Linked DNA regions of Homo sapiens: regions 1, 2, 3, 5, 6 and 7 are each linked to region 4. The links come from fine-mapping of genetic effects on gene expression. A gene starts in region 4. Each other region holds a variant in brackets. All regions are shown on one strand. Distances are between the middles of the regions.

What was found.
Region 1: its variant is fine-mapped to the expression of MARCHF8 in whole blood (TOPMed, PIP 0.99).
Region 2: its variant is fine-mapped to the expression of MARCHF8 in blood mononuclear cells (TOPMed, PIP 0.98).
Region 3: its variant is fine-mapped to the expression of MARCHF8 in blood mononuclear cells (TOPMed, PIP above 0.99).
Region 5: its variant is fine-mapped to the expression of MARCHF8 in transverse colon (GTEx, PIP 0.97).
Region 6: its variant is fine-mapped to the expression of MARCHF8 in visceral fat (GTEx, PIP 0.97).
Region 7: its variant is fine-mapped to the expression of MARCHF8 in whole blood (TOPMed, PIP above 0.99). The same link has a PIP of 0.9 or more in blood mononuclear cells, lung, monocytes, monocytes after LPS, monocytes after Pam3CSK4 and sun-exposed skin.

The regions. Positions count from the first base shown.
Region 1 is chr10:45,439,212-45,443,211 of GRCh38, reverse strand. ALOX5 (arachidonate 5-lipoxygenase) reads right to left here. Exons shown (of 14, transcript NM_000698.5): 8 at 2,579-2,782; 9 at 1,782-1,868; 10 at 1-174. Among named protein-coding and RNA genes, the nearest start is that of ALOX5, 67 kb to the right of the region's middle. RefSeq lists enhancers at 1-271, 272-1,042 and a silencer at 1,399-1,630. The variant C/TC (reference allele first, on the strand shown) is at 2,497.
Region 2 is chr10:45,670,274-45,674,373 of GRCh38, reverse strand. ZFAND4 (zinc finger AN1-type containing 4) reads left to right here and starts at 1,602. Exons shown (of 10, transcript NM_174890.4): 1 at 1,602-2,124. RefSeq lists a silencer at 1,300-2,019. The variant G/A (reference allele first, on the strand shown) is at 1,975.
Region 3 is chr10:45,471,294-45,475,393 of GRCh38, reverse strand. All of the region lies in intron 3 of MARCHF8 (membrane associated ring-CH-type finger 8), which reads left to right. All of the region lies in intron 1 of LOC105378286 (a long non-coding RNA gene), which reads right to left. Among named protein-coding and RNA genes, the nearest start is that of MARCHF8, 62 kb to the left of the region's middle. RefSeq lists enhancers at 1-43, 44-545. The variant A/G (reference allele first, on the strand shown) is at 2,578.
Region 4 is chr10:45,533,010-45,537,109 of GRCh38, reverse strand. It overlaps MARCHF8 (membrane associated ring-CH-type finger 8), which reads left to right and starts at 1,739. Exons shown (of 8, transcript NM_001282866.2): 1 at 1,739-1,899; 2 at 3,821-4,000. The coding sequence starts at 3,899.
Region 5 is chr10:45,598,581-45,602,680 of GRCh38, reverse strand. No RefSeq gene overlaps it. Among named protein-coding and RNA genes, the nearest start is that of MARCHF8, 65 kb to the right of the region's middle. The variant G/T (reference allele first, on the strand shown) is at 2,055.
Region 6 is chr10:45,432,945-45,436,944 of GRCh38, reverse strand. The region is part of intron 7 of ALOX5 (arachidonate 5-lipoxygenase); the gene reads right to left. Among named protein-coding and RNA genes, the nearest start is that of ALOX5, 61 kb to the right of the region's middle. RefSeq lists enhancers at 3,101-3,639, 3,640-4,000. The variant A/G (reference allele first, on the strand shown) is at 1,608.
Region 7 is chr10:45,592,317-45,596,416 of GRCh38, reverse strand. It overlaps a transcript of MARCHF8 not described here. Among named protein-coding and RNA genes, the nearest start is that of MARCHF8, 59 kb to the right of the region's middle. RefSeq lists silencers at 1,344-1,413, 1,694-1,853, 1,954-2,023. The variant G/A (reference allele first, on the strand shown) is at 1,940.

The DNA.
Region 1 (4,000 bases), 94 kb after region 4:
GATGGCTTCCCACACCAGGAGCCCGTCGTCCCGGTAGAAGTAGTAGGGGATGTCTTCTTTGCTCTCCATGCCCCGGGCCTTGATGGCCTCGGGAAAGCACAGGGAGGCATAGGTCAGGTCCTTCATGGCCCTCTGCACCATCTGCACGTGCCCACCGCCCCCTGTGGCGTTGGCCTGGAGTGGGAGGTAGAGTGCCCTGAGCGGGTGGCTCCTCCCACAGCTGTCCAGACCCATCCCTGAGGAAATGTGCCAGGGGAGGCGAGGAGGCCAGGCAGGCAGAGGTGCAAGCCCTTGTCCTGTGAGATGGGGGAGGGATGTTTAACGCAGAGAATGACAAGGGCAGCCGGGTGGAGAGGTGCTAGGGAGGAGCCTCCCGCCCAATCCAATGCAAGGGACTGAACCGTGGGGCTGCAGAGTACAAGAGGGAAGGGTGCGCTCCCAGCCACAGGAGGGCAGCAGGCGTGGGCAGGTGTGTGGGGGACCCCAGCACCAGCGGGCCTGGGCTGTGAAGTCTGCTCTAGTGCTGAGCACACGACCCTCAGTCATTGCTCTCAGTGACCCTCAGTTTCCAGGACCCATGCAACTCTGTTGAGGGCCTGTTGTGTGCTCAGGTGAGGGCTGGAGAGACCCACAAGGAGGGATCCTGGTCCTGATCCCGATCCCGGCTTCTGAGTGATGCAGACACACTCACAAGCTCACTGGCACATATGTGTGTCCACGTGCACACACACACATGCAAATACACCCAGGGGGCTGGGCTGTCGGTGCCACAGAGGTTTTGAAGAAGGACTTGGGTGCTGGGGTGCCAGAGATTGGTCCACGGTGGGCATTCAGCCCAAGCAGGACCAACCAGAGCTGCCCCCCAGCACTTTCTGTTTAGATGCGGCTGGGAGATAATGGCCACATGAGAACCTGAGGTGGAGCTACTATGATGAGCTCCTGTGCCCTCTCCCATGGGGGCCTGTCTGCAGCAGGAGAGTGTGATGCCAACACAGGTGAAAGAGACAGAAAGAGGGAGCCAGTGTGCATGCACCCTGGGGCATTGCTTGAGTCCCTGGATCCATTTCTGGCTGAGGCCCCCGACCCTCTATTGTGTCCAGGTATTTGAGATAAGGCATGTCTTGTCCAGCTGCAGCTGGTTTGAGTTGGGTTTTGTCATTTGCAGCCCAAACAGTGTCTCAACTTCAGTGGTCATCTGGCCTGGTCACTAATGGGCTGGGGAAAGGAGGAAGGTTGGGGCAAGGGCCCATGTGAGAGTCCAAGCTTGGTAAGGCTACAGAGGGCTCAAAACGAGGTGGGGTGCTACCTGAGGGATGCGAGGGCTGGGCAGGGCCTGGAGTCCCCGATGCAGGAGACAGTGGGTTGGGAGGGTTGGGACCCGGGAAGCAGAGTGCTGGGGAGGTCCAGGTCAGGGTGGCAGGGGTGTGGCAGATTAAGAGGCAGACACAGGTTCCTGGTGCGTAGGAGGTCAGGGGGCCATAAGGAGTGTGTTCCAGAGGGGGGTCTACACCCAGGTCCCAGAGGCTGGGAGAGGGGAGGGGTGGGAGGAGGGGACCAGGAGCCATCAGTGAGAAGGAAGACCTGGTGGTGCGCCTGGAGGAGTGCTCCTGGCTGAATGGCACGGGCTGGAGACATCAGGAGGATGCTGGAGCCAGTGCTCTGAGCAGACTCCAGCCTTCACCCTTCCAGGCCTCCTGAAAGGGTGTCTAGATCTCAGATAGGGAGTGAAGGCGGCCAGGCTGGGCTCTTCCAGGCAACAAGTAGGGTAGGAGGGCACCCACCTTGTCAAAGAGGCCACACTCGCAGATGAGCTGCTCACGGGCCTTGGTGTTGATTGCAATGGTGAATCTCACGTGTGCCACCAGCAGCTGGGGAGGGGAGAGGAGGAGGCCTCAGAGGGGGCCCAGTCAGGTGACCTGGTGCCTCAGGGACCCGCAGCTCCCCCACCCAGGCCTGCCCTATAGGATGATGCTGGGCGCAGGGAGGAAGTGAAGGCTGGGTGCTGATCTTTCTGCTGAATAAGTGCTGGAGGCCTGCACCCCTCTGATGCTTACTAAGCATGATAATGATTCAGAGGGTCCTGGCCAGCACTTGTACAATGCTTACCTCTTTGCTCCCTGAGTTCACTGTCTTAATCTGACCATCATTCTGTAAGGCAGCTGTACTATTTGACCTGTTTTACTGGTGAGGAAACTGAGGCACATGGGTACTTTTAGCATGCAGTCACCCCAGCAGCCAATGCTTGTAGGATTCGAGAACAGGGACGGAGAGTGATGGCAGGGGCGGCCATCAGCATCAGCCGAGGATCACCATGAACTCATTTGCCTTTTCCAACTCTACTGGCTGGCCAGCGAGGCCCGTGTGTCAGGCCCATGCCCCAGCCGCGTGTCCTGGGGAACAGCAGGCTCCTAGCTGTTTTCTTCCTTTAGGGGCATTACTGACTCTGAGAACATCTCTCCAGGGCTCCCTTTCTGCCACCCACTCCCAGCCACAGGT[C/TC]CCCCTGTGGGATGTCAGTGATCCCTCCCACTCCACATCTCAGATGCCCTCCCATAGCAGGTGGGGCGGTAGCTGGCTGTACCTTGAAAATGGGGTGCACAGCAGGCAGCTGGCGGTACATTGCAATGCCAAAAACCTCAGACACCAGATGTGTTCGCAGAAGGTGGGTGATGGTCTGGTGGACGTGGAAGTCACTGGAACGCACCCAGATTTTGGCCAAAAGCCAGTCGTATTTTGCATCCGAAGGGAGGAAAATAGGGTTCTCATCTCCCGGGATTTGGTTGAGCTGATACATTGGGGGAAAGGAAACACACTGCTATATTTCACTTCAGAGTATAGTTGTTGGAGAACTTCGCCTCTTGGGAAGTTCCAGAAGTATCTGAATTTCTTTAACAGTGACTTTGGAATCAGAAGAGCCTGGAGGGGGTAAAGGGCCCTGCGGTGGTATTTCCTGTCCCAGCCATATTACTTACAACCTGCATGACTCTGGATGACACACTGGGCTTTCTAAGCTCCGGCTTCAGCATCTGTCATGTGGGGACAGTGATCGCTCGGCTCACAGTTACTCAGGAGCTGGCAGCATGGAAGGAGCGGGCAGGCCGAAGGCCCAGCAGCGGAGGGGGAGGATCGCTGTCCCCCTCTTCCCTCCTTGCCCTGCTCCCTCTTCTACTGCCTCTCCTTGGTCTCTCATACTTTCCTCCCTCTCCTCTTCCCTGAAATGCTGGAGCTCCCCAGGGTCTGCCCTGGTGCTCCTGTCTTCTTTTCTTGCCCTAAGTCAGCTCCTCCTGTTTAAAGGCTTGGGGCCCTCCTGGTACTGAGCCTCCCAGATCAGGGTCTGCAGCTTGAGCTCTGCCTGGAGCCCACACCTGTGGCCAGGCACCTCCTGTAGCAGAGGCTGGACCTGTCTTCCCTTTCCAGTTTCCACTCCACACTGGGACAAGGTGAGTTTTTTTCTTTTCCAAAATGCAAATCATGTCATGTTAACTGCCTCCTCAATCACCTCTTAATGCCAGAAAATAAAATCCCCAAGCTCTGTGGTGACCTGGTTGCTGATGCCTCTGTACACACAGCCTCACTTTCGTGCCCCCACACCAGCACCCAGCCCCAGGTCCCTCCATGCCAGCAGCCCTGCACGTTGCCCCCTTATTGAGAGCCCAGCACAGCCTCAGCACCCGACAGTGAGTTCTCACGGGAGCCGGCAGCAGGTGCTGGCATTGCCCATTTTTACATGAAGACATGGGGTATTGGAGGGGTTGACAGAAAGAATGAGGTGGGTGGCAGGGCTGCAGCCAAGAGCGGCCAGGAAGGGGCATGGCCAGACTTTAGGTGCTGGGAAAGACCAGTGTCACTGCAGCACAGTGGTCATGGCTGGGGAGGGAGAACTGTCCCAGAGCACACAGCTGTGTCACTTGCTATAAGTATTGTGGAAGGTGGGGTCCTTGGGCGTCTCTCCCTCGAAAACAGTGCTGTCCAATAGACATATAATGCTACCCCACACATGGAA
Region 2 (4,100 bases), 140 kb before region 4:
ATAGGTAATGTAGTAACACTAATTTTACAGATAAAGCTAAAATCTGGAAGCAATGTGGAATAATGGAACAAGGTTGGATTTTTGTATTGTGTCCTAGTTTAAATATGGCTTTCCGACATAGAGCTGTTTGATTATAGGTAAATTGTTCTACTTTAATTGGCTTTTGTTTACTCCTTTGTAGACGAGGGATTTCACTACCAACTTTGCAGGATTGTGATGGGGAGAGAATACGTAAAGACCCTTATCAACTATCTGGCACTTGAAGAATGGCAGATGATAATGATGATGATGTTGTAAAGAATGAATGACTTGGCCAGGTAATGGAGCTTCTGGTATTGGGAGGCAAGGCTTTAAACACACCTGCCTGACTCCACGGTCCATGCTGTCAATTCTCCAGTGTGAATGAAGTGGGCAGGCAAGGGTGAGAAACGCTAAGGTTTTTACTCAGTAAGTCTCCATCACAGGCCCTATTCTAGGCTCAGGAATGCAAAGATGATTACCATCATAGCTCTGTCCTCAAAGGTCTCCAATCTATTTAGCATTAAGCATATGTGGAGTTTCAGAAGGAACCAACGGCGAGACTGGTGAATCAATGCCCAGTGCCTCACCATACTCCCCCAGTGTATGCTCAATAGTTCGTTGAACTGTGGAGATAAGTTGGTGGGTAGGGTCTCAGAAGAATGAGAGAGGACAGGAGACACAGATTAGATGTTTAGTTTCATATTAGACTGGCTCCTCTGAGCCAGAAGTCGAGGATGAGTGAACCCGCAGTGGGAGTGAGATGACATTCTTTGTCAGCTGAGTAACCCACTTAGTGAAGGAGGTTCACGGAGTTGGAAAATCGGTAGGGGGAACGGAACGAGGCAGTGGGCTCCCATGTTAGGTTGAAAGGCAGGTGTTGGCTTGAAGCCAGTTACTGTTTACACCGCAGCTCAGCAGCTTGGAAACTGGAGCAGGAGGTGTGGCTGGGCTTACCCAACGCTGGGATTTGAGCCCAGGGTGCCTACTCCATTGCCTGGCCTACAGTTCTCAGTAAATTGTATGAGGACTACAGAAAGTTATCTGTTTTCGCCTTTGTCTTCAAGCAGGCACGGTAATGCCCCCATTTTCCAGATGAGGCAATTGAGGCCAGAAACATTAGGGGACGGTGAAGCCTAAAGCAGATTTGTTAGGACAGGCCGGCCCAAACGCACCAGGAGCGCCCCTCACTCTGGAGAGGCCACCGACTGGACAGCGTCTGCCTGTATCGCCTATCTCCAGCAAATCAGGCGCCTGGAAGAGGATCCCCGGTGGGTCTCACGGAGGGCGGCTCCGGCTTCAACCCCGCCGTTCCCAGCAGGCCATGCGGCTGCCCTCCAGACGCCCGCGTGGGCACGAGTCAGGGGTCCAGTGTTGCTAGTAATAAAAGATCAACATCCGGGCCTCGTAACTCACAACCTCCAGCGAATGCCAAGAAGGCCCCAGGGCCCTGGCGCCCCGGCAACCGCCCACGTCCGGGGGCCAGGCCTGCCCCCGCCCGCGCTGATTGGAGGGCAGCGAAAGCGCCGTCCAGCGATTGGTAGGTGGTGTCACAAAGGGGCGGGGCGCGGCGGCAGCGGAGCGTTGTCGGCCAGTGCCTTCCGTGAAGTTGCTCGCCGGGTCGTTGGGCCCTGTCGACCTGTAGGCGGGCGAGCGAGCCAGCGGACAAGACTGCGGGTGAGGCTGAGCTAGCGAGCGGCCGGCAGGGGGGGCGCCCGGGCTGCGAGCCGCTGAGCCCAGCCGCGCTGCCGCCGCCGGCCGTCGTGGGGCCGGAATGGCGCAAGGCCGGAGTGGCGCGGGCGCTCGGCGCTGGGCTGCCGGGTAGAGTCCTGTCCCCGCCCCTCGCCTTGCGGCCTGACGCCGGCCGCTGCTGCCCGGGGACCGGAGCGGCGGGCCGCCTTTGCCCAGGACACACGCTCTGGCGTTTGTTCCTTTGGGCGTGACGCCAGCTTCAAC[G/A]GGTACGCGGCTTTCCCGACGGGTGCTGATCTCCGAGTCGCTGTTGTCACGCGGACTGCTGTCCTCCAGATTCAGGCCGGTGGGTCTGGGGAGCCCGGATTGGTCTTGGAGGAGCAACGGCTGCGCAGGTGACTCGGTGGCCTCAAGTGTGTAGGTACCTGGATGGCGCGAGGAGATGCTGGCTCTGAAATACTTCCCAATTCCGCTTGCAGATGAACTCCGGACTAGAGTTTAGGCTACAGACAAGTTAGGCGGTTGATGTGATTCTGTAGCTCGTATTTCGAACTTTAGGGATGTTTTGATGTATCAGTAAATGTAGATCTGTGTCACAGTTTTAATGGCAGCTTCACATTCCGGATATCTTTATGTTGGGGAAAATGTTTCAAAGGTAACTGCTCTTCTGTAGCTAAGCTTCTTTAGAGCAGAGGTTGGAGAAAATTCTGAGTTACTGAAATTACGTATTCAGCGCTATTGCCTGTTTACCTTTAACTTCCATTTCATCCTTGGAGTTGTGTTTTTAGAAACTTTTCAGAAGAAATGAGAGAAATGCTTTGGGAATTGATTTTTTTTTTTTTTTTAAGTTCTAGGGTACATGTGCACAACGTGCAGGTTTGGTACATAGCTATACATGTGCCATGTTGGTTTTCTGCACCGACTAACTCGTCATTTATATTGCGTATTTCTCTTAATGCTATCCCTCCCCCCATCTCACTCCCCACGACAGGCCCCAGTGTGTGATGTTCCCCTCCCTGTGTCCAAGTGTTCTCATTGTTGAGTTCCCATCTATGAGTGAGAACATGGCGGTGTTTGGTTTTCTGTCCTTGTGACAGTTTGCTGAGAATGATGGTTTCCAGCTTCATCCATGTCCATGCAAAGGACATGAACTCATCCTTTTTTTATGGCTGCATAGTATTCCATGGTGTATATGTGCCACATATTCTTAATCCACTCTATCACTGATGGACATTTGGGTTGGTTCCAAGTCTTTGCTGTTGTGAATTGTGCCACAGTAAACATACGTGTGCATGTGTCTTTATAGTGGCATGATTTATAATCCTTTGGGTATATACCCAGTAATGGGATCGCTGGGTCAAATGGTATTTCTAGTTCTAGATCCTTGAGGAATTGCCACACTGTTTTCCACAACGGTTGAACTAATTTACAGTCCCACCAACAGTGTAAAAGTGTTCCTATTTCTACACATCCTCTCCAGCATCTGTTGTTTCCTAACTTTCTAATGATCGCCATTCTAACTGGTGTGAGATGGTATCTCACTGTGGTTTTGATTTGCATTTTTCTGATGACCAGTGATGATGAGTGTTTTTTCATGTGTCTGTTGGCTGCATAAATATCTTCTTTTGAGAACTGTCTGTTCATATCCTTTGCCCACTTTTTGATGCGGTTGTTTTTTTCTTGAAAATTTGTCTAAGTTCTTTGTAGATTCTGGATATTAGCCCTCTGTCAGATGGGTAGATTGCAAAATTTTTTTCCCATTCTGTAGGTTGCCTGTTCACTCTGATGGTAGTTTCTTTTGCTGTGCAGAAGCTCTTTAGTTTAATTAGATCCCATTTGTCTATTTTGGCTTTTGTTGCCATTGCTTTTGGTGTTTTAGTCATGAAGTCCGTGCTCATGCCTATGTCCTGAATGGTATTGCCTAGGTTTTCTTCTAGGGTTTTTATGGTTTCAGGTCTAACATTTAAGTCTTTAATCCATCTTGAATTAATTTTTGTATAAGGTGTAAGGAAGGGATCCAGTTTCAGCTTTCTACATATGGCTAGCCAGTTTTCCCAGCACCATTTATTAAATAGGGAATCATTTCCCTACGTCTTGTTTTTGTCAGGTTTGTCAAAGATGGTTGTAGGCTGGGCACAGTGGCTTACGCCTGTAATCCCAGCACTTTGGGAGGCCGAGGCAGGCGGATCACCTGAGGTTGAGAGTTTGAGACCAGCCTGACGAACATGGAGAAACCCCTGTTGGGAGAAATCTCTACTAAAAATGCAAAAAAATTAGCCGGGCGTGGTGGCACATGCCTGTAATCCCAGCTACTAGGGAGGCTGAGGCAGGAGAATCACTTGAATCTGGGAGGCGGAGGTTGTGGTGAGCCAAGATCACACCATTGCACTCCA
Region 3 (4,100 bases), 62 kb after region 4:
AGGCTCTAACAGTCTTAGGTAGGGGCTGGGTGATTCCAAGGCCCTGGCAGAATGCTCTGGTGGAGGCAGCAGTGGCTATACTGCAGCCCTACTACTGGGGAGAGTGGGGTTGCTTTCAGTGGCAATAGGTATGCCAGCGGCTAGGGAGTGCACACTTTGCTCACTTTGTCCTTGGCGCTTGTGAAAACGTGCAGTGGCTTCACTGCTGGAAGCAGCAGGGTCTTTGCCAAATGGTTTGCACTTCATCCCTGGCAGCAGCAGCTAGCTGCTGCAATGGCTGTGGTGAGGAATATCAGTGGGGTTCCAGGGATGTGAAGAAGCAGGGACTGTTGGGCCCCCAGCAGGATGCAGTCTCCTGAGGACTGGGCTCTCAGTATGGTGTCTTCTTGTAGCTGCCTTGGACTCCAGGGGTGTGTGGGACCCATCACGAGCTCCCTCCCTGGAGCAATGCCTTCTCGCCATCTCCAGGCAGCTCCCTCTGTTAGCCTCAAGGCCTGTGAGGGTCTAGGGCTCTGTCATGGCTGGAATTGCAGAAGTGCATGGTAGGAATGTGGACCGCTGGGGATCGCTCGCTTCCCCTTTCCCCACACTGGGGAACCTCTTGGCTGCCTTGCCTGACTGCCCTCTCCTTGCCTGCTCTAGGTGTTTTCTGTCACTTCTCTGTTGAATTCGTGTTCTCTGTTAGATGATCTATTCAAAGTCTGATTCTTCCTCGCTATTTTGGTTCTTCTTTGTAGAGGAGGTAAGTACCAGATGCCTCTAGTCAGCCATCTTGAAGCCCCTCCTCTAGATTTTGATTGGTTAACTTTTTAATGTGAAAATATAACTATTAAAAAGCATGTTCTTCATTATATCACCTAAACTCATTGTGATGGCCCTTTGTGAGATAGAGCTCTGACAGATGGGTATTCAGGAGGCTGTGTGGTAGAGAGAAGGGAGGGGTGGGGATGGGGCAAGCCAACTTTCCATCTCTGCTGTGAGCCTCTGCCTGTCAAGGGGCCATTGTCTCGGGGTACCAGGAAGCCATAGAGTATGGCTGGCAGGGGCGATGCACAGTGTACTGGGCATGGCCTCAGGGTGGACTCAGGTGACGTGAGGTGACTGCCTGTTCAGGACGTTGTGTCCTGTGCCACCACTGCCCCCACCTGCAGGCTGTCTTACCATTTGACAATATGTCTCATCTCTAACATGGAGACAAGGAGGCCATGCAGAGTTTACGAGGATTGCACACATTGAGATTTTGTCCAGCACCTAACTGTGTGCCAGAAATTGTGCTTTGAATGCTGAACCAAACAGCAGAGGGAAGTACGCAGACCTCTATACGATACCACGGATGGAGAGAATTCCTACAAAGGGAACAGTAAGGAGCTTAGGTAGAGAATTACAGGGAACCCAAGTTGAAGGACTGCTCAGAGAAGATGTGGCTCAGGAGAGACATGTAAAGCAGATGTGAGAGGTGGAAAGGAGCCAACCAGGATGAGGTTAAACTGTAGTAGAAAGATCATTTGTCACCTGCTTGGAAAGTCCAGTACTTTAGATGGACAATGAAAGGCATCTTCAGTGGCTGGGGGTGATGGCTCTCATGGCACCCTATTGCAGGTGGCTGTAACCACAAGATTGTGTTGACTGTGGCTGTTCATGTGAGTACTTTGGCCTAAAATCCTATAGAGGCTGATTGAAATTCGCAGAGGAGGCTTAAACCCACTCTATTCAGCTGGAATTTCTTTAATACCAGGAATTGGCCTAGGCTAGGCTAATCATAGGGGCTGGACTTTTTGGAGCCTCTCTTGATGCCTCTCAGAGGAAGATTGTGGTGCAAAAAGGGCAGTACATAGACACAATGTTATTTTATCCCCAGGGAAGCCTTCTCATTCAACCCTGGGAATCAAACTTGGTCCAGGTGACACAATTTCTTGAGCAAGTTCATGATTGGCAGCACTTACCCCAGGGAGAAGGCAGTGGAAGCCCGTAGCACGAGTATCTCTCTGCCAGCCCCCTAGCCAGCCTGGCTCTGTAGGCTCTGGCAGTTGCCCAAGGCTGGGGCCTTGCAGACTGTGATATGTACCTCTTGTTAATCAAATATTCCTGGGTAGAATCAGACTGGACATGTTTAATGAGCAATTACAATGATTGCTCTATTGCTTGGCAAGCACATCTCAATGAATTTGAGCACTAACCCTCCTAGGCCTCCTGAATATTTTCCGGTTATTGTTGCCATTAGACAGGGATGAGATACAGCAGAATGTCACGTATCAGAGGGACATTCCTTACAAGGAATTCTTGCTGACCCACTTTTATTACGCGAGGGCAGACCTGGATGTGATTGTCAAGACCAGGGTTTGCTTCTTTCTGTTTCTGAATGCAGAGTTGACCAGTGACACGCTCAGGTTACTCAAAACTTATGGGTTACAAATAAGGCAAAATGTGCTTTCTTAATTTATTCTGAAGAAAACAGCTGTCCCAAAACAGGATATTTATTCCTAAGTGACAAAAACAAAGGATGAATTGGAGGAGTTTCATGGCATCAGGTGGCCTCAGCACCACTGAGCCTCACTCGAATCCTGACAGCACTGAGGC[A/G]GTGTTTCCGTTCAGCTCCCCTTTTGCAAAGTTTAACCGACTGTCTTTGCAGTATTTTTTCATCTGACTGTTACAGTTTAGTTTTTGGCTGAAGTTTGGTTCAGTCTCCTGAAGGTGGAAGGGGGGCAGGTTTAAAACAATTTCCCAATAATACCAAGATTATTTCCATTTTTCACTCTCATTCTTCCACAAGTATACAGCGGAGTTCCAGAAGCTAAGCAACATGCAGGATAGCATCTTCCTTAGCTGGTGGAATATGTTCCTGTGTTTTAAGATGTTCTAATATAGCAAAGATGGAGAGATGGAACCCGTGTAAACAAAAGCTTTTTGTGAGGGCCTCAGTAATTTTTAAGAGTTTAAGGAGGTCCTGTGGCCAACAAGTTTGAGAATCTCTGTTGTAGAGGCACAGTCTCCCCAGAGGGTAGCTGTTTAGTTCATTGAGCAAATGTTCCCTAAACACCTAGTGTGTACCAGACCAATCAGCAACAGCTTCTAAGTTAACATATCCCAGTAACATCTTCTTATAAACCTTGATAGGTGCAGTGAAAGAAATGAATAGGGTACAAGGATATGATAACAGGGATGAAAAGCCCTTTCTCCTCAGAAAGGAGGAGGGGCCATCATGCTGGGTTGGAATGTGGGAGTGTTCCTGGGAGGAGGAGGAGGGGTGGGAAAGGCCACCAGTTGCCGGGAAAGGAGGGCCTAGGCCTAGAGGAAGTGAGGGTCATTTTTCCTGCCTGCCATGTTTCTGTCAGTAGTATACTCCGCGGCTCAGGGTTCGCTCTTAGAGTTCTGTGCATCTTGGGCCAGGGCTGGCCAGATGAGTAGCCTGAGCAGAAGCTGTTTTCTTCCCAGGTGGGTGGACGGTGGTTACCTTGGTTGGAATGAGGCATTTTGTAGCAGATATGAGACCTGCAGGTTTACTCTCTAGGTCATCAAGAATCAAGAGTGGTAGTCACACGGAAGTCTTGTTCCACACTGGAGGTGTGCCTGGAGTGGTGTGTGCTGCATTTCTGCATCTCCCTTGACTTTATTTGATCCTAGTAGCAGCCCTGTAGATTGTTGACCTCATTTTTTAAATGATTAAACTCCTGCTCGGTAGTGTGCTCAGTGGACTGGCCCCAGAACACAGAGGGAAGACTTTGGGGTCAAAAGCCAGTGCTTTGGCCACTGCCCCAGAATTCTCTCAGAGGAAATATTTTATTGCCTCTTGGCAATGAAAATGTATTTCGACTATATTTGAAAAGTTCAATATTTAAAGGAAATCAACAGTATTAAAGGGTCCTTGTGAGTGATAAGTAACTCACAAACACAGCCCCTTTCACCGTGTTATTTCTGGTGATTTTGGATTTTTATATGGTTACATCTTTAGTTTCTGGGACTGTGAAGCCACCTTTGCTCAGAAATCATTGTCTTCAATGTAATTTATTGAAAACAAATTATATTTGCAAGATCCTCAGCTGCAGCATGGAGGAAGACAGTCCTGAAAAAGTCCCTTCAGCTGTGGCCTTCTGTCCCCTCCA
Region 4 (4,100 bases):
ATATGATAACATGTTTAACCTTTTGAGAAAGAGCCAGACTATTTTTCAAAACGACTGCATAGATCCTCACTAGCAGTATATGAGGGTTTCAGTGTCACAACATCCTTGCTAACACTTGTTTGTCTTTTATTATGAACATAATTAAAGTAATATCTAATAGTTTTGATTTGTATTTCCATGATGGCTAATGATGTTGATTAACCCATTTTTCATTGGGTTATTTGTCTTTATTATTATTATTATTATTATTATTATTATTATTATTATTATTATTTTGGTAGAGATGGGGCCTCGCTATGTTTCACACACTGGTTTTGAACTCCTGGCCTGAAGCAGTCCTCCCACCTCAGCCTCCGAAAATGCTGAGATGATAGGCGTGAGCTACTTGCACCTGGCCTTGCCCTTATGTTACTGAGTTGTAAGAGAGTTGTTTATATATTCTAGATACAAGTCCCTTATTACATATATGATTTGCAAACTTTTTCTTCTGTCAGTTGTCTTTAGACTTTTTTTTTTTTAACATTTATAAATAGAGGTAGAGTATTGCTATATTGCCCAGGCCTTTCTTGAGTTCTGGCCTCAAGAGATTCTCTTGCCTTGGCCTCCCAAAGTTCTGGGATTATAGGTGTGAACCATTATGACTGGCTGTGTTTTCCCTTTCTCAGTGGTGTCTTTTGAAGCACAAAAGTTTTTATTCTGATGATGTGTAGTTTGTCTGTTTTTCCTTTTGTGTGAGGAAGAGATCCAAATTTCTTTTGCATGTGGCTATCTAGTTGTCCCAGCACCATTTGTTGAAAACAGTACTCTTTCCCCAAGAAGTGATCTTGGCACCCTTCTTGAAAATCAGCTGACTATAGATACGTGGGTTTATTTCTGGGCCCTAAATTCTATTCCATTGATATATCTATTCATATTCCAGTATGACACAGTCTTGATTACTGTTCCTTTGTTGTAAGTTTTGCAATCTGGAAATGTGAGCTCTCCAACTTTGTTCTTTTTCAAGGTTGTTTTGGCAGATCTGAGTCCCTTGAATTTTATATAAATTTTCAGATCAGCTTGTCAAATTTCTGTAAAGAAGTCAGCTCAGTTTTTGATAGAGATTGCTTTGACTCTCTATGTCAACTTGGGAAGAATTGCCATTTTAACAATATTAAATCTTCTGATCCATGAACATGGACATCCATTTCCAATTTCTTCAACAACCAGCTTTGGCAGTATCTCTTCTAGATGTGAATGTTCATGTTAGGTGGGCTGTATTTTGCAAGTTAGCATTAGTCAAATTGAAGCCCTCATGCCTGGATTGTGAGGCATAGTGCTGAGGTTTAACTGTTATTCTGTGTAAAGATTAATTTAGTTGATATAAAAGATGTTTGGAAATTATGCAAAGAAAATAATGTAATATATGATTTGTATTTTTCATGTAAATCTTCACATAAAAAATGGCATGGCCTGTTTTATCGTTTGTTTGTAAACTCATTTTTATCCTAAATATGTGTGGCATAGGAGGGAGATTGTTTCAGGCAAACTTATAGGTCTGTTGCTTTGTTGTGGTGGTACATATCAAAAGACTAACTTCAATGACAGTGAGGAGGGATGTCCTTCAAAACTGTAAAAAATTTGAGACCCTCTTGCATCTGTGTTTCTGTGCCATAAATAGCCCTTCTCAGGCTTGTCATGGGCATGTACCAATGATGTAATAATGATGATTATATCAGAAGCACCACAGGTAGCTTTTGGCATGGTAGGTATAGGGCTGTGGATATCGTCAGTTTGACCAAGTATTCCAAGAGGCCCCATGGAGTTTGTCATCTGTAATAGAGGACGTTAGTGCATTAGTGATGAAAAAACTGCTTACCACTGACTATTGTGATCTCCCAGGGAGTATAAGGCAGCTCCGCAGTAAGTGCCTCTTGTTTTGTGTGACGTGCTTGAATACAAACATTCAGACTGTTTCTTGGGCACAGTAGTGCTCCATCTTATGCCAGCCTCATCAAAGGCTTGAAATAGAGTAGGTGGTGTGTGATACCTAGACACTAACATCCCCTATTCTATTTTCCTTTTTTTGTTGTTATTATCAATGGTCACTCACTTACTGTAAAACTAGACTTTATAAACAGATTATTATTTTAGCTAATTTTCTTCTATGTGTTGATCCCTCCCAGTTTTTGTTCCTTTTTGTTGTTCATTGATTCTAGAGTTGTGTGAAGGAAGCCATTTCGTGATTCCTGGTGCTCCTCTGCTTGCTTAGTGACACTACTAAGAATTGGCACCAGCCTTACAAACACCTGCCTTTGATCCAGAGTAGAGTTTGGGGAGAGGTAGAGTAAGTGACTGCTTATCAAATGTGACCTTGGGGTTGTCAGGCCCTGTTGTTTACCCTACCTTTTCCTACTGCCTCACCTGTCCCCACCCCCTACCCCAGCACATGGTTAATAAATGAAAATCTCCAAATTCGAGATTCATTCTTTTGGTTGAAGGCTTCCATTTTCTGTTAAAATTTGAACAACATGAAACATTTTACTACATTAAACCTTCTGGATAATTTACGTTTAATTGGTTTTGTATACAGAGTGGGATAGATCTCAGTGGGTAAGTGGGGAGAAAGAACAACACACAATTCAATTATTAGACATTTTGGGGGATGCGTAAGAGAAAACCAGAAACAGGGCAGGAGTACCTGGAATCACTGAAGACAGTTTATGCATACACTGTTATTTTACCTAAAGGCAGCCTTTCTCATGGTTCTTAGGCATGTCATGGTGACCCTTCATATTCCCTAGGAAACCCTTTACGGCAGTGTTTGGCAAACTATAGTCTGGTGGGCCAAATCTAGCCTGCTGCCTATTTTTGTAAATAAAGTTTTATTGGAACATAACTATGCTCATTCATGTACATACTCTTTTTTTTTTGGTGGGGGGGAGGTTGGGGGGTTGGAGTCTCGCTGTGTTACCCAGGCTGGAGTGCAGTGGTGCGATCTTGGCTCACTGCGAGCTCCGCCTCCTGGGTTTGTGCCATTCTCCTGCCTCAGCCTCCTGAGTAGCTGCGACTACAGGCGCCCGCCACCATGCCTGGCTAATTTTTTGTATTTTTAGTAGAGACAGGGTTTCACCGTGTTAGCCAGGGTGGTCTCGATCTCCTGACCTCGTGATTTGCCCGCCTTGGCCTCCCAAAGTGCTGGGATTACAGGCATGAGCCACCGCACCCGGCCCATTTACATGCTCTCTATGGGTGCTTTCATGCTACAGTGGCAGAGTTAATTAGCTGGAACACACTTGGACCACAGTGCCTAAAATATGTATCTTGCCCTTTATAGGAATAGTTTGCCAACAGCTCGTGTAGAGTCTCTACTTTTGGAAGGTTAAGTATGGATCATAGATACCTTGAGTTTAATTTGGACTTCCTAACCTCTGATCTCACCATTATGTGGACTCACAGACAGTGGTTTTAAGGAAAGATCACTGCTTATTTCAGGACAAATGCTTGGTCATGATAAAAAAAAAAGTTTAACTTCAAAAATATTCTTAAAATAAATGGTGGCACTGCTTTGTTTTAATCCTAAGTAGCCAATGGAAGATTATATCTCTGATTATACATGTACGTGATCCACCTGCCTCTTTCAGGTGCTCCCATCTTATTATGAGAAATGTTAGAATTTTCCCCTTAGACATTCATCTTCTATTGTTTTTGAAGACCAAACATTTATGTTGCCGTAACTTATTTAAATATACATATGAATATAAGTATAAAATGTTAAGCTCACTCTTGGAAATTTAAAGTGTTTTAGCTGAGTTATGTTTATTCTCTCTTCATTTTCTCTCAGCTTGAAATCCATGGCCCAAAATGACTCTACCAGTGGAGACTCTCTTCTGTGAAGAAGACGACCAGATAAGAGGTTGGGATGAGCATGCCACTGCATCAGATCTCTGCCATTCCATCCCAGGATGCCATCTCTGCTAGAGTCTACAGAAGTAAGACCAAAGAAAAGGAGAGGGAAGAACAGGTACTGGGAGAGTATCTTTTTTAGTTTCATTATTTTTATTAAATTTTTATTAAAGATGACCTAGAACAGTGCTTAAACTCTAAAGGTCAGGTTTTCTCTG
Region 5 (4,100 bases), 66 kb before region 4:
ACCTCATCTGCCCACCTTGGCCTCTCAAAGTGCTGGAATTACAGGTGTAAGCCACCGCACCCGACCTAATCACCTCTTCTTATGAGGACATCTGTCATATTGGATTAGGGCCCACTCTAATCTCCTTTTTTAACCTCCTCTTTAAGGACCCTATCTCAAAATGCAGTCACATTCTGAGATCTGGGAGTTAGGACTTCAACATATGAATTTTGGGGGTGGAGGGACACAATTTAGACCATATCAGATAATACATTATGCTGTGGTAACAAATCAATCCCAAAAGCTCAGTGATTTAACACAACAAAGTTTATTTTTCCACCATGGAAAACTCACTGAGCCAGGCAACTTCCCAGAACAGCTGACCCAGGCAGTGACTCAGTGATTTAGGCTGTGTCCACTCTGTGGCTTCACCACTGCAACATGTGGTCTAGATCACTGCAGCAGGGGAAGACAGAGCTGGAGGGTTGCATTTGGTGCTTTTGCCTAGATGTGTATATGCCCCTTTTTGCTCACAGCCCATTGTTTATAGGGCCTGACCTAATTGCAAGGGTTATATGAAAGGAGCTGGTAGCAAATGGATATTTAATGTGCTATAAATCTCTGCCAGAGATGGCAATAAGTGCTAATAACAAAAACCAAGCAGGGGAAGGTGACATTGATAGGAGTGCTGTTTCACAAAGGATGGTCAAAGACAACCTCGAGAAAGTCACATTTAAATAAGCTATAAAGGAAGTGAGGAAACATGTCCGGAATTGGTGGGTTCTTGGTCTCACTGACTTCAGGAATGAAGCCGCGGACCCTCACGGTGAGTGTCACAGTTCTCAAAGGCAGCGTGTCCGGAGTTTGTTCCTTCTGATGTTCAGATGTGTTCGGAGTTTTTTCCTTCTGGTGGGGTTCCTGGTCTCGCTGGCTTAGGAGTGAAGCTGCGGACCTTCCTGGTGAGTGTTACAGCTCTTAAGGCCGCGCGTCTGCAGCTGTTCATTCCTCCCGGTGGGTTTGTGGTCTCGCTGGCTTCAGGAGTGAAGCTGCAGACCTTCATGGTGAGTGTTACAGCTCATAAAGGCAGTGTGGACCCAAAGAGTGAACAGCAGCAAGATTTACTGCAAAGAGCGAAATAACAAAGTTTCCACAGTGTGGAAGGTAACCCAAGGGGGTTGCCACTGCTGGCTCAGGCAACCTGCTTTTACTCTCTTATCTGGCCCCACCCACATCCTGCTGATTGGTAGAGCCAAGTGGTCTGTTTTGACAGGGCACTGATTGTTGCGTTTACAATCCCTGAGCTAGACACAAAAGTTCTCCACCTCCCCACCAGATTAGCTAGATACAGAGTGTCCATTGGTGCATTCACAAACCCTGAGCTAGACACAGGGTGCTGATTGGTGTGTTTACAAACCTTGAGCTAGATACAGAGTGCCGATTGGTGTATTTACAATCCCTGAGCTAGACATAAAGGTTCTCCACGTCCCCACCAGACTCAGAAGCCCAGCTGGCATCACCCAGTGGATCCCACACCAGGGCTGCAGGTGGAGCTGCCTGCCAGTCCCGCGCCGTGCGCCCGCACTGCTCAGCCCTTGGGTGGTCGATGGGACTGGGTGCCCTGGAGCAGGGGGCGGCGCTGGTCGGAGAGGCTCTGGCCGCACAGGAGCCCACGGAGGAGGGGGAGGCTCAGGCATGGCTGGCTGCAGGTCCAGAGCCCTGCCCTGCAGGGAGGCAGCTAAGGCCCGGCGAGAAATGGAGTGCAGCGCCGGTGGGCCGGCACTGCTGGGGGACCCAGCACACCCTCCGCAGCCGCTGGCCTGGGTGCTAAGCCCCTCATTGCCCGGGGCGGCAGGGCCGGCAGGCCGCTCCCAGTGCCGGTCCGCCAAGCCCACTCCCACCGGGAACTCCAGCTGGCCCGCAAGCGCCGCGCGCAGCCCCGGTTCCTGCTCACGCCTCCTCCACACCTCCCTGCAAGCTGAAGGTGCCGGCTCCGGCCTTGGCCAGCCCAGAAAGGGGGTCCCACAGTGCAGTGGTGGGCTGAAGGGCTCCTCAAGCGCCGCCAGAGTGGGCGCCAA[G/T]GTCGAGGAGGCGCCGAGAGCGAGCGAGGGCGCACGCTGTCACCTCTCAGAAATGGAAGGAAATGTTCTACTCTTGAGGAGACTAAGGAACAGCAAGGAAGTCAGGTGGCTAGAGCAAAGCAAGTGAGAGGACGATGGGAAATAGGGGCTAGATCATGCAGGACTTAGAGCCAAACACTTCTGGATTTTATTCTGAATTGGGAAAATACTGGGGTTGACATGGTTTTGAAAAGTCACTTTGGCGATTGTGTAGGAAAAAAAAGACTGTAAGGAGGCAAGGATGGAAGTTGAGAGAAATATACAGCAGTCATCCACGTGGGAGATCCTAGGGCTGGGCTGGGCTGTAGCAGCTCCTGGATGATAGTCACATGCTCTCCTTTCTCAAACCACCAGCACCTCTCTCCCTCTTGTCATGCTCAGCTTTTATTTTATTAAACTATCAACAATCGAAGAGAAATTCCACATGATACAGAAACATCGGGGATTCTGTCTAAGTCTTGGTGCTCACTGCTGAGGAAGAAGACTTTAATCAGGTGTTGCAGCCAAGGAGATGGGAGGTCAGTCTCAAATCCATCTCCCTGACTAAAATTTGGGGTTTATATAGCGGGGAAGAAGTGTAACAGTGTGTTAGAAAACACGAACTAGGGAGCGGTAAGGAAACAAAAGGAAGGGTCTGGCATCTCATTGTCTGAATGTGGTAATCTGGTAAGTTTCAATTATTTGATACTTTTTCAGAGGCCAGGGGTCCTTCCCGAGAAAGGAACTCAGATAAAACAAATGTAAGTTTCGAGCTTTAAGAAAAGAAGGGTCACTTTCTATGTTTGGCCAAAAGAACTGTCTATGGGACTATTGGGTCAGTTTCATGTTCAACAACGAATCTACCAAGCTATCTGTATCTGTGGCCTGCTATTCCCCTTCTCTTGTTTTTTCCTTATCTAAGGATGACTCCTCCAATCTACTCAAGATTTTCCTTCTTACAGTTGTCACTTTCTTGTACATCCAGTTATTACAGCATTTGTATTAGCATATAAATATTTAAACAGAAAACCTCAATCCTGCATCTCTTACCTACTATGATCCTATTTCCCTGCTCTCCTTTACAGCAAGAAAGCAATGATTGTATTTACTTGTCGTCACCATCTGTTATCTCAAGAATCAGGCTTTTAATCCTACCACTTTATCTTAATTGCTCTGTTCCCAAGGTCTCAGTGATCTCTACACTGACAGTTCAGAGGTCAATCCTCAACTGACTCAGCCTCTCAGTGCAAATGACACCTTTAGGCACTTGTCTCCTGAAACATTTCTTCACTTGATCAGGACTCCTCTGTTCCAGTTCTCCTCTTAACTCTGATTGCTTCTTCTAAATTTCCTTCTTATCTCTACAGTACCAGATGTCTAGCCTTTCAGTCTCTTCTTTTGCTGCAATTATGCAATTCGGACTTATGAACGTCCTAGATCGGTGACTTTCAATGATTTTCAAACTGTAGGCCACAACTGTTACTGGGTTAAAAAAATCAATTGAGTTCGGAGTGAAAAATTTAAACAGAAGAAATCGTGCATCACACGTAGGAATGGTAAATTTGTTTCTGGAAACTTTTAAATTATATACATGTATTTGGTTAATATGTAAAATGTATTTTGTATTTTGGGTTGAGGTCAAAGATATGAAAATAATTCTCTGTGTGATCTCATCCAATCATGTGGCTTTTTGAATACCACTGCCTAATCTTCAATTTATATCTCTATATCTCTCCTCTGAATTCCAGTCTGGTGAACTCGAGTCTGGTGAAACTATATCTTTATTAAGGTTATTAATAAAAAGGAAAAAGTATTATATCAAGGCAACAACAACAACAACAACAAAAAAAAAGGAAAAGGCATTTAGATTTGGGACCAGGAAACGTGAATTCAATGTTGGCTCTACCACATAGCTTTGCAACACTTTACTAGGTTATTGCTAGTTTCTTCCTTTGTTTGCAAGCTCCCCATTAGTCCTTACATTCATCTATTCTAGTGGGAACACTAGCATATCTGTTGTATTAGATT
Region 6 (4,000 bases), 100 kb after region 4:
AGCCAAGGAGGTGAAAGAGCTCTACAGAGAGAACTATAAAACACTGATGAAAGAAATCATAGATGACACAAAAAAATGGAAAAACATCCCAGCTAATGGGTTGGAAGAAAGCAATCTACAGATACAACACAATTCCTATCAAATTATCAACATCATTTTTCACAGAATTAGAAAAAAAAATCCTAAAATTCATATGGAACCAAAAAATAGCCGAATAGCCAAAGCAATCCTAGGCAAAAATACAAAGCTGGAGGCATCACATTACCTGACTTCAAACTATACTACAAGACTACAGTAACAAAAACAGCATGGTATACTGGTACAAAAATAGGCACAGAGATCAATGGAACAGAACAGAGAACCCAGAAATAAAGCCATATACCTGCAACCAACTGATTTTTGACAAAATCAACAAAAATAAACAATAAGGAAAGGACATCCTATTCAATAAATAGTGTTGGAAAAACTGGCTACCTATATGCAGAAGAATGACGCTGGGCCCCTACCTCTCACCATATACAAAAATTACCTCTAGATGGATTACAGACTTAAATGTAAGACTTCAAACTTTAAACATTCTAGAAGAAAACCTAGGAAAAAATCTTATGGACATTTCCTAGGCAAAGAATTTATGACTAGACCTCAAAGGCATATGCAACAAAAACAAAAATTGACAAATGAGACTTAATCAAATTAAAGAGCTTCTGCACAGCAAAACAAACTATCAACAAAGTAAACAGACAACCTACAGAATGAGAGAAAATATTTGCAACTATGCATCCACAAACGACTAATACCCAGAATCTATGAGGAACTTAAGAAAAAACACCACCATTAAAAAGTGGGCAAAGGACAGGAACAGACACTTCTCAAAAGAAGACATACAAGTGGCCAACAAACATATGAAAAAATGCCCAACATCACTAATCATCAGAGAAATGCAAATTAAAACCACAAAGGGATACCAGTCAGAATGGCTATTATTAAAAAGTAAAAAAATGACAGATGTTGGCAGGATGCAGACAAAAGGGAATGCTTACACACTGTTGGTGGCAGTGTAAATTACTTCCATCCCTGTGGAAAGCAGTTTGGAGATTTTGCAAAGAACTGCAAATAGAATTACCAGTTGACCCAACAACCCCATTACTGTGTACCTACCCAAAGGAAAAGAAATTGTTTTACCAAAAGGACATAGGCACACATATGTTTATTGCAGCACTGTTCACAATATCAAAATCATGTAATCAACCTAGGTGCCCATCAATAGTGGCACCAGATAAAGAAAATGTGATACATGTACTCCAAGGAATACTACATAGCCATAAAAAAGAATGAAATCGTGTTCTTTGCAGCAACATGGATGCAGCTTAGGATTGGCACTTAAGCCATAATCTTAAGTGAATTAACCCAGAAACAGAAAATCGAATACTGCATGTTCTTATTTATAAGTGGGAGCTAAGCATTGTGTACACATGGGCATAAAAGTGGGAACAAAAGACACTGGGGACTCCAGGAAGGGGAGGGAGGGAGGAAAGGGTTGAAAAACTGGGTATTGGGTACTATGCTCAGTATTTGAGTGATGGGTTCAATAGAAGCCTAACCCCAGC[A/G]TTATGCAATATAACCATGTAACAAACCTGCACATGTACCTGAATCTAAAATTTTATATATTAAAAAAAAAAAAACTGTTCTGACCAGTAAAAAAAGAGCTGAATGAGGATGGGCCCAGTGCTCTGCCTATTTCAGCCCATCACTCTCCCTTCTGCTTCTCTTCACCTCCCGGCCTGACCGGGCCTCACCTGCCCATCTCCTTGAGCTCTTGTACCACTGAGCTGGGCCTTCCCCAACCCATCCTTCACATCCTCCCACTCCTGTCCAGGATTTTGGCCTGCCATGGGATGCCAGAACTTGCCCTGAGCAATTTGTGTTTCTTAAATTTGTTTTTTGGGTAAGGAAGTAGCTTTGCGTTTCTGATTAGAAAAGAATATGTGCTTATCGTAAAAAGAAATCTGAGTCATGACAGGAGAGCCTGAGAAAGAAAACATCATCTCATCTTCCAGCGCCCAGGGATAACCACCAAATTCTGGGGAGCCTCCTTTCATAGGTCTTTGCATGTGTGCACATTTATCTGTCCAATTTTCCATCAACTGAATATGATTATAATCAACATCTGTCTCTTTGTTTTGCTCACCTGTCCCCCACTGGGCCATCACTGTGTTCCTACCTGGTGACACTGCGTCCTTGTGTCCCCATGCTGGCACAGTAGGCCTGCTGCATCCTTGCATTCATTTTACATAAGTGAGACCATGCCCATTGCCTTAGCAGTTTGAAGGAGCTATTTGTATACGACAGATATGTATCCTTTATCGGTCCCTTGTGTCTTGTTTTTCCACTGTTAACTCATTGTGGAGACCCCTCCAGGTCAGCTGGAAGGGAACCAAAGCATTCCTTTCAAAGACGCCTCAACATTTTATGGTGAGGACATGGAAGGGCTCACTCACTCAATCCTCTTCTGCCTTCAGACTGTTTTCAATTTTTTTCCCCATCACAAACTATGCTCCTGTTGCTACCCACACACATTTGTGCTTTCATTTCTGCTGAGTGGCTGCTAGCGAAGGCTGAGCCTTGGGGGTTTGGGTATGTTTTCGAGTAGACAGTGCCTGCCCTACTGTTCCTCAGACAGTTTCACTCTCCTGGTGCACACCTGTTCAGTGCTACTGGCTGTCAGAACACTTAAACAATAAAGTCCCCTCCAGTGCTCCTCCAATTGAGACGGGGCAGGGGCCTCCTCTTAGGGCACTGTAGCCCCCCAGCCCCGCAACAGGGCATGGAAATGAAGGAAAATCCCGAGTTCCTTGAAGGGAAGTTCCAGGCACCTAGCTAGCCCTGAGAAATAAATGAGCAACTTGACAAACAAGAGGGTAACAGCAGCCTAAAACAACAGCCAAGGAAGCCAGAGTCCTGGGCTGTTTGGTTCCCTCTGGAAACTAAAGAGAACCCCTGAACATGTGTCTCTGAGTTGTTTTTCAGAAACCCAGACCCCCACCAAACCGATCCACTGGCACAGAGACCTCAGATAAGACGGAACTGAGGACTGAACTCTGAGCAGGCTCTTTGTTCTAAATTTCTTCCTGGGGGGCCTGGGGGAAGTCCCGCCCACAAGCCACAGCTAACATTCCTTTCTGGTAACCCAAATTTTTAAATGAAACTTCTCTTCCTTAACCAATTTCAAAACAACAAATTTTTGAATCTACCTATGACCTGGAAGCCCACCCCCACTTCAAGATATCCCGCCCTTTTAGGCCAAAACCAATGTGTACCCTCCATGTATTGATTAATGATTTTGCCTGTTAACTTCTGCAATTCCTGAAATTCACTCTGCCTTTAAAAACCCTTACCTGCAAGCCATCAGGGAGTTCCGGTCTTAAGAGTGAGCTGCCCAATTCTCCTTTTTTGGTCCCCGCAATAAATGCCTTGTGTTCTCGTAGATTATATCCCAATCTCAGTGTTTGGTTTTGCTGCACTGGGCAAGCAGATCCCAGTCCAGCTCGGTAACACAACTGTCCTCGCCACGACAGCCTCAACCCCAGGACCCTCTGACCGCCCACTGCAACATGCACCTGGTACAGCAGGCGCTGTGGGATCTGCTCCGGTGCTGGCCGAAGCTCTGACCTTGCTCCGGTGCTGGCCGAAGCTCTGACCTTGGGCTGCCCAGGCCCACCAGTTATCCCGTGAACACTGCCAGGCTGCAACAACTCATGAGCAGAGCATGGGGCTCCGTCCTTGCTGGTGTCTGGGAGTTACCCCTTTGTTTTTCCAACCAGGCATGTCAGAAATGATATCTCATTGTTAACTTTCATTTGCATTTCTCTAACTACAGGTGAAGTTAGGAGTTTTTCCATATGCTGGTTGCCCATTTACATTTCTTCTTTTGTGAATTGCCTATTCATATTCTCTGCTCATTTTTCCACTGGAGTATTGGTATTTTCCCGTCAATGTAAAG
Region 7 (4,100 bases), 59 kb before region 4:
GGTTCTGCCGCTTCCTGTAGAAGGATGACAGGATTCCATATCCATTCATCAGTCAGCCAACCCTTTGGCTCAACAAGCCTGGTCTAGGCATAAGCTATACCAATGGAAGATATTGGTACTACCTTCATGGAACACCTGCTGCCAGAAGCAGTAGAGCCAACCAGGTTGTGGCAACTGGCCTTGATAACCTATTTTCCACAGTAAAAGACAAATGGAGAAAATTCATCATTTTTCTGCTCTTTGTAATACTGTATTGTAAGTGTGTTATAGAAATGGAGATGTTTTGACCTTGCTGATCCAGAGGATATCTTGAGCACACTGTTTTGAACCTGACAATCTGCTTTTTACTTAGCCAAAAATTCAAAGTGGTCAGAATTGTAGGGAGGAATTGATTAGCTATATGATAGATCACTCCGGGACAACAGAACAACTATGGAATATTTGAGAGGATTTGCTTATAATTCACTCATGAATTTACTAAGAAATACAAATTATTCATCTTTTATGCATGATTATGGGAGAAATAAAACTGGCAGTGGTTGAAACTATTTCTGGGAAGTTTGATGTAGGAAAATTGGATTTGGTAGACAGTGATGAAAGTGACAGAGGAATAATGAGAGTTTTATGTGGACAAAAGATGAATGCAGAGTCTGGCCCGGTGCAGTGGCTCATGCCTGTATTCCCAGCACTTTGGCAGGCAGAGGCAGGCGGATCACGAGGTCAGGAGATTGAGACCATCCTGGCTAACACGGTGAAACCTCGTCTCTACTAAAAACACAAAAAAATAGCCGGGCGTGGTGGCGGGCGCCTGTAGTCCCAGCTACTGGGGAGGCTGAGGCAGGAGAATGGCGTGAACCCAGGAGGTGGAGCTTGCAGTGAGCCGAGATCGTACCACTGCACTCCAGCCTGGGCTACAGAGTGAGACTCCGTCTCAAAAAAAAAAAAAAGAGATGAATGCAGAATCAAATATTTAGACGTCTGTATGTACACAGAGATGATTCCCCCATAAAAATTAAAATACAACTTAAAAGTAAGAAGTCGTATAAACCTCCTTCACGTGCTTTCTCTGGCTGAGAGGCTATGCTGTGGGAATCTTTCAGTCCAGATTAGGGAGCGAAAGCAAACAAAAATCTGTCAAGGCAAAAACCGTTATTACTTATTCCTTCGCTTTTCCTCCCGTTTGATAGCCTCAGGTAAGAAAGTATTTTCCATCTTCTTCTCCAAGTAAAACATCCTTTTGCCAGACAAAATTTCCTTTTCCTTCCAAAACACTAATATTAATAACATGTAGTCAGGGCCAGGAGACACTAAACGACACACACAGAGCTGGGGAAGTCTTTTCGGTTCCAAGCCCAGTGGGTTGTCGCCTGGGCACTGCGAAGGGGTGGAAGCACAGAAAGGCCGCGCGGCGGCACCCGCTGCAGCCCGCCCCCAGCGCGCTGCAGTCGCCGGGGCAACGCCTCCACCCAACTCGGCCGGACACGTGACGCCCGCGTCACGTGACCTGCCACTCGGTGTCCTCCCGCGGAGGGGCGTAGGGTGTAAACAGGCGACGCGCTGGGGGAGGTGCGGCCTTGCTGCGTCCACGTCTCGGGCATGCTCGAGGCGGGCCAGGGCGGTAGCGCCGCCAGCTCAGAGCCCACCTGAGGTAACTCCTGCGGCCTCTAGGATCGGAGTCCCCCACGCCGCGCGCAGCCGCCGCCGCTGGCCGCCAATAAGGGCGGCCGAGCCCCCGGCCCGGGCAGGGGGTGTGGCTGCCGGCAGCGCGTCGGCTACAGGTGGGCTGGGCTGGGCTGGGCTGGGCTGGGCTGGGTGGGGGCGGCCGCCAAGGACCCATCCCTGCGCTGCGGGCCCGGCGTGGAGCCCGCGGAGAGGCAGCGCGACTCCAGGCAGTGGGTCTCTCTGCCCCGGTGCTCGCGTCTGCCCCTGGGGCCGGGCC[G/A]AGCGGAACCAGGAATCGCAGAAACGGTCAGCGCCCAGGGCTCTAGGCCGGCCGCCCCGGGTGCCAGGTGAATTCCTTTCCCTGACCGGCTGTGAGACGTTGGCCCGTCAGCCGTCGTCTTTGGCCTGAGTGTGCACATCTGTAAAATGGAAGCTCGGACTAGTGATCCGTGAGGACCTTCCACGTCTGACGTGTGATCTCGAGAGACCTGCGTACATTCGGGGTGCCAGAAGGAAAGCATAGGTAACTATTTTGTCCTTTAATTGCTAACTTTTCTTTGGTCTTTAAATCTGTTTTCATCTTAAACGATTCGTATTCCTGTCCACCTGGGTGAAGTTTTTAATAGAAAACTTATTGGGTGGGGGTTATAATGGTTTATGTTACCGTTTTCATGTTTCTTTAATGCAACAAAACCTTTTTTTCTTAAAACCTATTTGGAAGCCCAAATTGTAAAAATAAATAAATAAAAATGGAACCCTTTTCTGCCTCACTATCACTATTCTCACCACCCATCCCCACGCTAACTACCCTTGAGGACCCCTGCAAGTCATAGGTTGAGGAGCTCTGTATGGAGTTGAGGAAATGTTTTGTGTATTTTTTAATTTGATGGGATCTGGAAAATGAATTCTTTGCATGTGTGGAGTTTTCTGTTATTTTTCTCTTTATTTTGTTCGATTGCATGCTATGTAATTAGACAGCTAGCATAACCCTCACATACCATACTTCGGGGCCTTTTTGGCCCCAAAATTTCTGATAAAGACGTTTCTCTTTCCATGTTTCCTTGCATCCCAGTCCCTGGGGAAGTAAGTGTATGTTTATAATAGTGAGACTTCATTCCTCATTGCTGATTTAGTTGCTCCGATACAGAATGGGAATGGGAGACTTTTGAGGCCAACCGAATGGGTTAGGACATATCTGAAAAACATGAAAACGCTAAAAAGCATGAAAACTGAAGGAGTATACGAACTCAAGTCGTTGAGAGTCATGAAATAATGTGAACATGCTCTTGTGTGAAATCTTGAGACCCTGGAGCAAGAGAATTTTGGATTTTGAGAGAACTGAGTTCAGGAGAGAAGGATGTCCTGTTTCATATGGTGAGTGAAAATATAAACAGTATGAGGTGGTAGTGTGTAGACAAAATTATCAGGTTTTTTTTTTTTAAGAGTAGCACATAGTTTCCTAATTGATTTTGGAGACTAGGGTTTTAAGAGATGTACTGAAACTTGAAGTTTAATGTTACAAGAGGGAAACCATACTCTTTTACACCTTGTCTGCTTGGTGCTTCTGTGAGTTGAGCAAGAATTGGAAGTGGAATGTACTGTAAGTGGTACCCAAGGTGACCTAGTGGAAAGGTTTTCTCTTTTCAAAACCAACTTACTTCCCTGATCTTTGGCTTAAGCTTAAGCAAGTCAGTTCCTTTCTTTGGTTCTCAGTTTCTGCTGAAAAATGAGGAAATTGGATTGATTACTATTCTACCTTTTGGCTCCAGCTAGGTTTGCCAGATAAAATACAGGATGCCTAGTTGATATGAATTTCAGATAAACAGTGAATTTTTGTAAAATTTTTAAAATAAATTTTTACTATAAATATTACGTGGGAGCATACTTGTACTAAAAAAAAGATTCGTTGTTTGTCTGAAATTAAAGTGTAACTGGGCTTGCTGTATTTATATTTCCTAAATCTGGCAGCCTTAGCTCCAACATTTTTGTCTCCTTTAAATTAGTGCCAGCTCAAAGCAGAGCTGGGAATGAATTGATTCAAGCAGCCAAGAAACCCTAATGGTTGTCAGTAGTAGCGTCTGGTTCTTGAGGGTTGTCGTTGATTCACTTGTGGTTTGTTTCTTTTTCCCTTATGTAGTAGTTCCATTTCTGCTATAATCACATAATGTTTAGGTTTATACTTCTGGTGGTAAGTAGTTTAAAATATCTGAAAGCAAGTTAAAAATATTGCTGAAATTTCTAAAAGTAACCTCATTTTTTCGAGCCTTGAAATGGTATGTGCTTTTTCCCCCCCGTAAAAGACACTTTACAACCCTACCTGTTCCCTAGGTTTGTGGTTGACTGCAAGACATTTTCTAAAGCCGTGGACTGTTCTGATGCCAAGTAATCAGGAAGTTATTCTTATGGCTTCTAATTTTGTTCCCTGTGAATATGAAAAATTA